3 separate regions of the Homo sapiens genome follow, and regions 1 and 3 are each linked to region 2. The links come from fine-mapping of genetic effects on gene expression. A gene starts in region 2. Each other region holds a variant in brackets. All regions are shown on one strand. Distances are from middle to middle. Region 1 overlaps RSPO4 (R-spondin 4). Region 2 holds the start of RSPO4 (R-spondin 4). Region 3 has its middle 24 kb from the start of RSPO4.

Region 1 (2,844 bases), 44 kb after region 2:
TGTCACTGCTGGGGGATCCACCTGCCCAGCCCAGAAGAGGCCACTGAAACGGAAAGGAAAGCTGAGATTATCCAGCAGCTCTGTTCCCCACCTCAGCGCTTCCTGCCCATGTGGGGAAACAGGTCTGAGAAGGAAGGGGCTTGCCCAGGGTCACACAGGAAGCCTTCAGGCTCTGCTTCTGCCTGATGGCTCTGCTCAGCACATTCACGGTGGAGAGGAGAATTTGGGGGTCACTTGAGGGGGGAAATGTAGGGAATTGTGGGTGGGGAGCAAGGGAAGATCCGTGCACTCGTCCACACCCACCACCACACTCGCTGACACCCACCCCCACACGCTGACACCCACCCCCACACTTGCCCACACCCATCACCGCACTCGCCCACACCCACCACCACACTGCCCCACACCCACCACCACACTCCCCCACACCCACCACCACACTCGCCCACACCCACCACCAGTGACTTGAGCATCTGTGCTTCGCTGTGACGCCCCTCGCCCTAGGCAGGAACGACGCTGGGAGGAGTCTCCAGGTCAGACCCAGCTTGGAAGCAAGTCTGTCCTCACTGCCTATCCTTCTGCCATCATAACACCCCCTTCCTGCTCTGCTCCCCGGAATCCTCAGAAACGGGATTTGTATTTGCCGTGACTGGTTGGCCTGAACACGTAGGGCTCCGTGACTGGGACAGGAATGGGCAGGAGAAGCAAGAGTCGGAGCTCCAAGGGGCCCAGGGGTGGCCTGGGGAAGGAAGATGGTCAGCAGGCTGGGGGAGAGGCTCTAGGTGATGAAATATTACATTCCCGACCCCAAGAGAGCACCCACCCTCAGACCTGCCCTCCACCTGGCAGCTGGGGAGCCCTGGCCTGAACCCCCCCCTCCCAGCAGGCCCACCCTCTCTCTGACTTCCCTGCTCTCACCTCCCCGAGAACAGCTAGAGCCCCCTCCTCCGCCTGGCCAGGCCACCAGCTTCTCTTCTGCAAACGTTTGTGCCTCTGAAATGCTCCGTTGTTATTGTTTCAAGACCCTAACTTTTTTTTAAAACTTTCTTAATAAAGGGAAAAGAAACTTGTAAATGCTTCTTGAGCATCAAGAGGGTGTTGCAAAAC[C/G]ATGATACTGCTGAGTTTGGAGTAGCAGAATTTAAAACATGTGGAGTGGTTTTCACAGGAATGCTTGGGGCTGAGAGGGGTCAGAGTGTATTGGGGATTGGGGTGGGGTTTCAGCTTGGGGGGAGCTGATAAAAGAGGAGGGGCCCTCAGCCCCTCCAGGCTACTCTCAAGAAGCAGACTCAGCCAGAGGCAGAAGAGGGTGACACCTCGATCCCCAGAACCTCGCAGTTTCACGAACCAGATGTCTCAGGGACCAGGGGTACCTAGGAGGTTGACAGTCCCACGGGGCCATCTAAACACCCTGGGCTGCTGGTGAGAGTGGCCTTGGCATTGGGAGGCACAGGTGGGAGCTCCAGCCTGTCACCAGCTATCTGATGGGGTCCAGGTCAAGTCACTTCCCCTTCCGGGGCCTCAGTTTTCCCATGTGATGAATGTGATGAAGAGGAAGCCTGGCTAAATTAAATCTATTGCCGAAATCTGGAAGACCCAACAACAGAATCCCCTGGGGAGCCTTTTAGAAATTCAGGTTTTGGGGCCCTCCCCCAGATCTATTCATTGCAAACAAGTTTAGGAGCAGGCAGTGAGAGCAAACATTCTTTCCAGGACAAGCTGAGGGGAGAGGTGGCTCTCAGATGACTTCCAGCTCAGAGGGCTGAGTCTAGATTTGCAGCTGCAATTCTGATTCTGACCTCAAGGCTCAATGATCTGATTCTACAGAGTTTAGTCTGTATGTGTGTGTGTATGTGTGTGTATCTTTTTAATTTTTTTTTTTTTTTGGCAGGGTCTTGATCTGTCACCCAGGTTGGAGTGCAGTGGTACGATCACAACTCACTGCAGCCTCAAACTCCTGGCCTCAAGCAATCCTCTTGCCTCAGCCTCCCAAGTAGCTGGGACTACAGGTGTACACCACCACACCCAGCTAATTTTTTATTTTTTGTAGAGATGGGGGTCTCAATATGTTACCCAGGCTAGTTTTGAACTCCTGGCCTCAAATGATCCTCCCACCTCAGCCTCCCAAAGTGCTGGGATTACAGGCATGAGCCACTGTACCCAGCCCCTATATAAATAAATATATATATAAATATATATATATATACACACACACACACACACACACATACATACACTATATAGTGTTTTCTGTTAAGATTCCAGTTTTAGGATGCTGAACGTTCTAATTTTCACAATTCTAAAAGACCAACATAAGGGTAGAAGTTTCCAGTACTGCAATTCCCTGGCCATGTTCTTTCTTCTTGGGGGGCCTGGTCCTCTGTCCTCAGCTGGGGGCTGTGGTGGTTTTTTAATATTTTCAAATTACAGGATGAAATTTCTTCAGGGCCTAAGCCCCTCCTATAACCTTTCCATCTCAGACGTTCCCTGCCCCCAGCTCCAATCCTTTCAAATCCCAGCCTCTCCCACATTCTCTGGAGGATTGAGGGGCCTCTCTGGGAAGGAGACTCTGCTGTCAGGTGGGCATCGCCCACTCCCTTCTTACAAGCCAAGCTTGGAGAAGTTCACAGAGAAGCTCAGAAACAGGGTGAGGTCACACAGCCAAAGAGAGGCAGTCTGGGCAGAGCCCAGGGGGAGGTTCCGCTGCTATTGGCCTTCTGGATGCTATGCCAGAGGGAGAGAACAACCCCTTGGCCAGAGCTGAGGAATCCCTGGTGGGTTCTTCCTGTCACCGCTTCCAACTGGGCCACACTAGGGCCCTCTCTGCAGTTCCCCCCACCCGCTCAC
Region 2 (2,500 bases):
GCAGTGAGCCGAGATGGCGCCATTGCACTCCAGCCTGGGTGACAGAGTGAAAACCCATCTCAAAAAAAAGAAAAAAAAAAGAAAAGAAAAAGGAAGGACAATTGTTCAGCAAGAGAGTGTCAACTGTAAGTTTCTCTAGGCCTCCCTCCAAGGCCTCTTCCATTCTGATGAGTCTGTGCCTGAGAAGTGGCTAAGAGGGGCAGGCACTGGACCAGAATGGCCACTGACCTGCTGTGTGGCCTTGGGCAAGTCACTTGGCCTCTCTGAGCTTCCCTTTGCTCCCCAGAAAAGTGGAATTACTCAGAATACAAACCCAAACCATTGGGTTGTTTTGAAGACTCTAGTATATGTCAAGTTCTTAGCAATGCCCACCATATATGCCTCACAAATGATAGCTAGCATGATTGTTGTTGTTTTTGGTGGTTATAGTGACAGGAGAGGTGAGCATGCTGTCGGGTTGAAGGAGGAATTTTGCTCTGAAAGGGTTAAACTTGAACCAGCTGCTCCCAGTCCTGGTGATAAGGTTGGAGGAAACACAGTCCAGGTCCCCAGCCCTGTCACAAGTGGATTTATGAGGTGCTGGTCACTTTGAGTCGGAGTAGATGATCCCCGCAGACTGCACAGGAAACATTCAGGGTTAGTGGCCAGAAGGGGCTCAGGCCTCTGTTAAAAGAATGAGACAGAGTAGAGAGAAAAAGAGAAAGCCAGGCAGCAGGAGCCCCGCAAACACCCCACCCTGCAGGAGGGGAGAAGGGGAGAGATGGGGTTGAAGGGAGAGACAGAGAAAAGGGAGAACCAGAGGCCCAGCCAGGAGGACACAGACAGTGAGCCTGAGAGAGAGACGGCCGGCAAGAGTAAAGGATGCAGGAACAGCCAGGCAGGGTCGGGGGCAGAGCAGGGGAGCGCGGGCCGCGGAAAGACCGAGAAAGCAGGAGACAAGGAGTTGTCCTTAAGGGCCAGAAGGAGGAACAGACAGAGAAAGGGGACTGGGGGGAGGGAAAGAAAATCACAGGCGCTGAGAGGGCGCGGGGGACCGTACGGGTCTCCGGGTGTCCGCGCATCTGTACCTGCGCGCGCGTGCGTACCTGTGGCTGGCGGTGGGCACGTGCACGTGCTCGGGGGCAGTGCTGGGGGCGGGAAAGACGCAAGACCGCCGGCTGCGGGACAGATCGAACTCGAGGGCCCCGACCCGGGTGACCCCCGCCCCCTCCCCGCGCGCGCTCCCGGGCCCCGAGCTGGTTAACGCGCCGCCCCCGCCGCGCCGGCTCCTCCCCGCCAGGGCAGTGCCCCGGCTCCGCCAACGCCCTCACTAGACCTGGCGGCCGGACCGACCCGCGCCTGGCGGATGCGCCCGGCGCGCCCACAGCAGCCCCCGCGCCCGCCGTGCCGCCGCCGGGACGTGGGGCCCTTGGGCCGTCGGGCCGCCTGGGGAGCGCCAGCCCGGATCCGGCTGCCCAGATGCGGGCGCCACTCTGCCTGCTCCTGCTCGTCGCCCACGCCGTGGACATGCTCGCCCTGAACCGAAGGAAGAAGCAAGGTACAAGGGGTGGCTGGGCAGGGCGGCCGGGCAGGCGCTGCGGGGCAGACCGGGGGCCGGAGGACCGGGGGCGGCGGCTCTGGGGGCATCTGCCTGGTGCCTGGCGCCCTGGGTCCTTCGCTCCTCCAGACGAGTCTCAACCTCACTTAAGATGGGGAGATTGAGGCTCCAGGGCACCCAGTGAGCGAGCCATTGAGTAGGGTGGGCCAAGGAGACTCACCCAGAAGGGAGAGGGTAGCAGGGCTCTCTGTAGTAGCCGCATGGTCAGCAGAAAGGAGGATGGCTTCGTGCAGAGACAGAAGACTCAAGAGCCAGCCTGCGGGGCACAGGGACTAGGAGACAGACTCAGTGGCGTAGAAGCCATTCCAAGCATCCATGCTCGGCCAGGAAGTGACATAGAGAGCCTTGGGCTGGGCGTCCAGAGGCCCCAGTCCCAGCCTCATCACTCACCCTGACTCCTGGTGTCACCTCCCAGAGGGCAGTGATCCTCCATGGCCCCCCTATGTTGAGTTCAGCCAGACCTGAGACCTGAGTTCAGGTTCACTTATTCTAATAGGGGATGACCTAGAAGAAGTCCAGCCCCTCAGAGAGCCTCAGCTTTTCCATCTTCACCTCTCAGGCCACTAGGAAGATGAGCCAAGGTTCAGATTATAAATGTACCAGGGGCCGCATGCGCTCTCACCTGGGAGTCCTATGCCACAGCCTCGCTGTGAGAGTCAGAACATCCTCAGAAGGTGGGTTGGAGGCTGTCCCTGCAGAGCAGGAGTTGGTAGAGCCTGTGCCTCAGAGAAGGGTAAGCGGGTGAGCAAGTGAGCAAATCGCCTGCCTGAGCTGGGCAGCCCTTTGGCCTCCAGGTGCCACTCTTAAGATCAGCAGCCGAATGCCAGCCACTATGCCACGGGTTTTTCATGTCCTAGCTCATCAAATCCCAACTATATGCTCATGACATAGGGGTCGTCCAGT
Region 3 (2,844 bases), 24 kb before region 2:
GGTATGGGACAATCTTGAGTGGTGGGGACAGCACTGGGAGCTCAAGGCCATCGTGAATGGGCAGGAGGTCCCTGGTTCTGGAGCTGAGTTCAGTATCCGGGGTATGGAATGGACAGAGAGACTCCCCTGGGTTGGGGATAGGGGGTGATTTGTGGGTGATAACTATAGGATAAAGGCCGGCTGTAATCTTGGCTTGGACCACCTCCAGCTGGCAGCTTATGACAGCTGGAGACCCCTGGGAGTGACAGGAAGCATTTCTGTTCCTTCCCGTGGGCACGGTATATGGGAGGAAGCTCCCTGGCTGCCATCAGAGAAGGAAGGCCAAGCCTATTCCTGGGTTGAGACACAGGTGAATTTTCAAACGAATCCTTCTTAAAGGTGCTAGAGCAATGAAGATTAAAAAATCATTATTATTAAAATCATGGTTCAAGAACTATAGGGCTAAGCTTAAACCATTCAGTTTTTAAAAATTAAACCTTTAAATTTTAGTGAGAAAAAATGATTATCAAAATTCATCAAAAAGGAAAACCGGTGACTCAGGAGCACAGGAATAAATGCTTCCCATTACTCTCAATTAAGAAATTCACATTTTATAAAACACAAACTATAAAAATCCTGGAAAACAACTTAGGCAATACCATTCAGGACATAGGCACGGGCAAGTATTTCATGATGAAGACACCAAAAGCAGTTGCAATGAAAGCAAAAATTGACAAATGGGACATAATTAAACTAAAGAGCTTCTGCATAGCAAAAGAAACTATCAACAAAGTGACAACCTACAGAATGGGAGAAAAATTTTGCAAATTATGCATCTGACCACAGTCTAATACCCAGCATCTATGAGGATCTTAAATTTACAAGAAAACTACCCCATTAAAAAAGTGAGCAAAGAAGATGAACAGACATTTTTCAAAAGAAGACATACATGCAGCCAACAATTATATGAAAAAAAGCTCAACATCATTGCTCATTAGAGAAATGCAAATCAAAACCACAATGAGATACCATCTCACACCAGTCAGGATGGTTACTATTAAAAAATCAAATAATAACAGATGCTAGCAGGGTTGTGAAGAAAAAGGAATGCTCAGTACACTGTTGGTGGGAGTATAAATTAGTTCAACCATTATGGAAGACAGTGTGGCGATTCCTCAAAGACCTAAAGACAGAAAGATCATTCGACCCAGCAATCCCATTACTAGGTATATACCCAAAGGAATGTAAAGGCCAGGTGCGGTGGCTCACGCCTGTAATCCTAACACTTTGGGAGGCCAAGGCAGGCAGATCACTTGAGGTTAGGAATTTGAGACTAGCCTGGCCAACATGGTGAAACCCCGTTTCTGCTAAAAATACAAAAATTAGCCGGAAGTGCTGGTGGGCACCTGTAATCCCAGCTACTTGGGAGGGTGGTGCAGGAGAATCACTTGAACCCAAGAGGCAGAGGTTGCAGTGAGCTGAGATTGTGCCATTGCACTCCAGCCTGGGCAACAGAGCAAGACTCTGTCTCAAACAAAAAAAAAGAAGAAATATAAATTGTTCTATGATGAAGACACATGCAACTGTATGTTCATTGCAGCACTAATATCAAAGACATGGAATCAACCTAAATGCCCATCA[A/G]TGATAGACTAGATAAATAAAATGTGGTACATATACACCATGGAATACTATGCAGCCATAAAAAAGGGGAGATCCTGTCCTTTGCAGGGACATGGATGGAGCTGGAGGCCGTTATCCTTAGCAAACTAATGCAGGAACAGAAAACCAAATACCACAAGTTCTCACTCATAAGTGGGAGGTAAATTATGAGAACACATGGACACACAGAGGAGAATGACACACACTGGGGCCTACTGGAGGGTGGAGCGTGGGATGAGGGAGAGGATCAGGAAAAATAACTAATGGGTACTAGGCTTAATACCTGGGCAATGAAATAATCTGTACAACAAACCCCCATGGCACATGTTTACCTGTGTAACAAATCTGCACATGTACCCCTGAACTTAGAAAGAAATTCACATTTTAAACATACCATGGCTTTGACAAGGAAAAGGATATTTAATAGATAAAGATATTAAAGTAGCTTCCTAAAATTACTTTTTAATTACAAAAGAAAAAGTAAACAACTTTACAGTGGAGAAACTGGATGTCACCTTAACCAAATGATCAGTTAACACTAATAAAGGGACAAATTGACATTGTGTACCTCTTAATGTGATAGACTGAGAAGAACACAGCATCATTTACAAGATATTCCTGCCCAAAATGCATAACCTCAGTCTAATCATGAGGAGACATCACACAAACCCAAAGTGAGGGATGTGACATTCCATAAAACAACTAACCTATATTTTTCTTAAAGGCCAACATCATGAAAGACAAAGAAAGGCTGAGAAACTGTTCCAGATTAAAGGATACTAAAGAGACATGACAACTACATGCAACATGTAATCCCAAACTAGAAAAAAAGCTGTAAAGGACATTACTGGGACTGAACAAAATACAGACTACAGGTTAGTTAAAATGTATTGGGTGGCTGCATGGGGGGAACAGGCCTTCTGCCACACTGGTTGGAGTGTCAGGCCATTTGGCAATATTCACATAAACAGAATATTGCACCAAAGATGAAAGATACAAAATTGTATCCACTTTTTGATTCTATTTATATAAAGTCCAAAAATTAGCAAAACTAGTCTAGGGTGATAAAAGTAATAGAAGGGCAGTGATAGTTTTCCTTGAGAGGATAACAGTAGGGCTGCTGGGGTGCTGGTCATATCTCTTTCTTCATCTGAGTGATGCTGACAGGGATAAATACAGTTTGTAAAGCTTTATCATTTGCCAACC

The links.
Region 1: its variant is fine-mapped to the expression of RSPO4 in thyroid (GTEx, PIP above 0.99).
Region 3: its variant is fine-mapped to the expression of RSPO4 in uterus (GTEx, PIP above 0.99).

What each region holds. Positions count from the first base shown.
Region 1 is chr20:956,682-959,525 of GRCh38, reverse strand. It overlaps RSPO4 (R-spondin 4), which reads left to right. Exons shown (of 5, transcript NM_001029871.4): 5 at 1-1,074. Among named protein-coding and RNA genes, the nearest start is that of ANGPT4, 42 kb to the right of the region's middle. The variant C/G (reference allele first, on the strand shown) is at 1,108.
Region 2 is chr20:1,001,123-1,003,622 of GRCh38, reverse strand. RSPO4 (R-spondin 4) reads left to right here and starts at 1,312. Exons shown (of 5, transcript NM_001029871.4): 1 at 1,312-1,537. The coding sequence starts at 1,459.
Region 3 is chr20:1,025,247-1,028,090 of GRCh38, reverse strand. No RefSeq gene overlaps it. Among named protein-coding and RNA genes, the nearest start is that of RSPO4, 24 kb to the right of the region's middle. The variant A/G (reference allele first, on the strand shown) is at 1,621.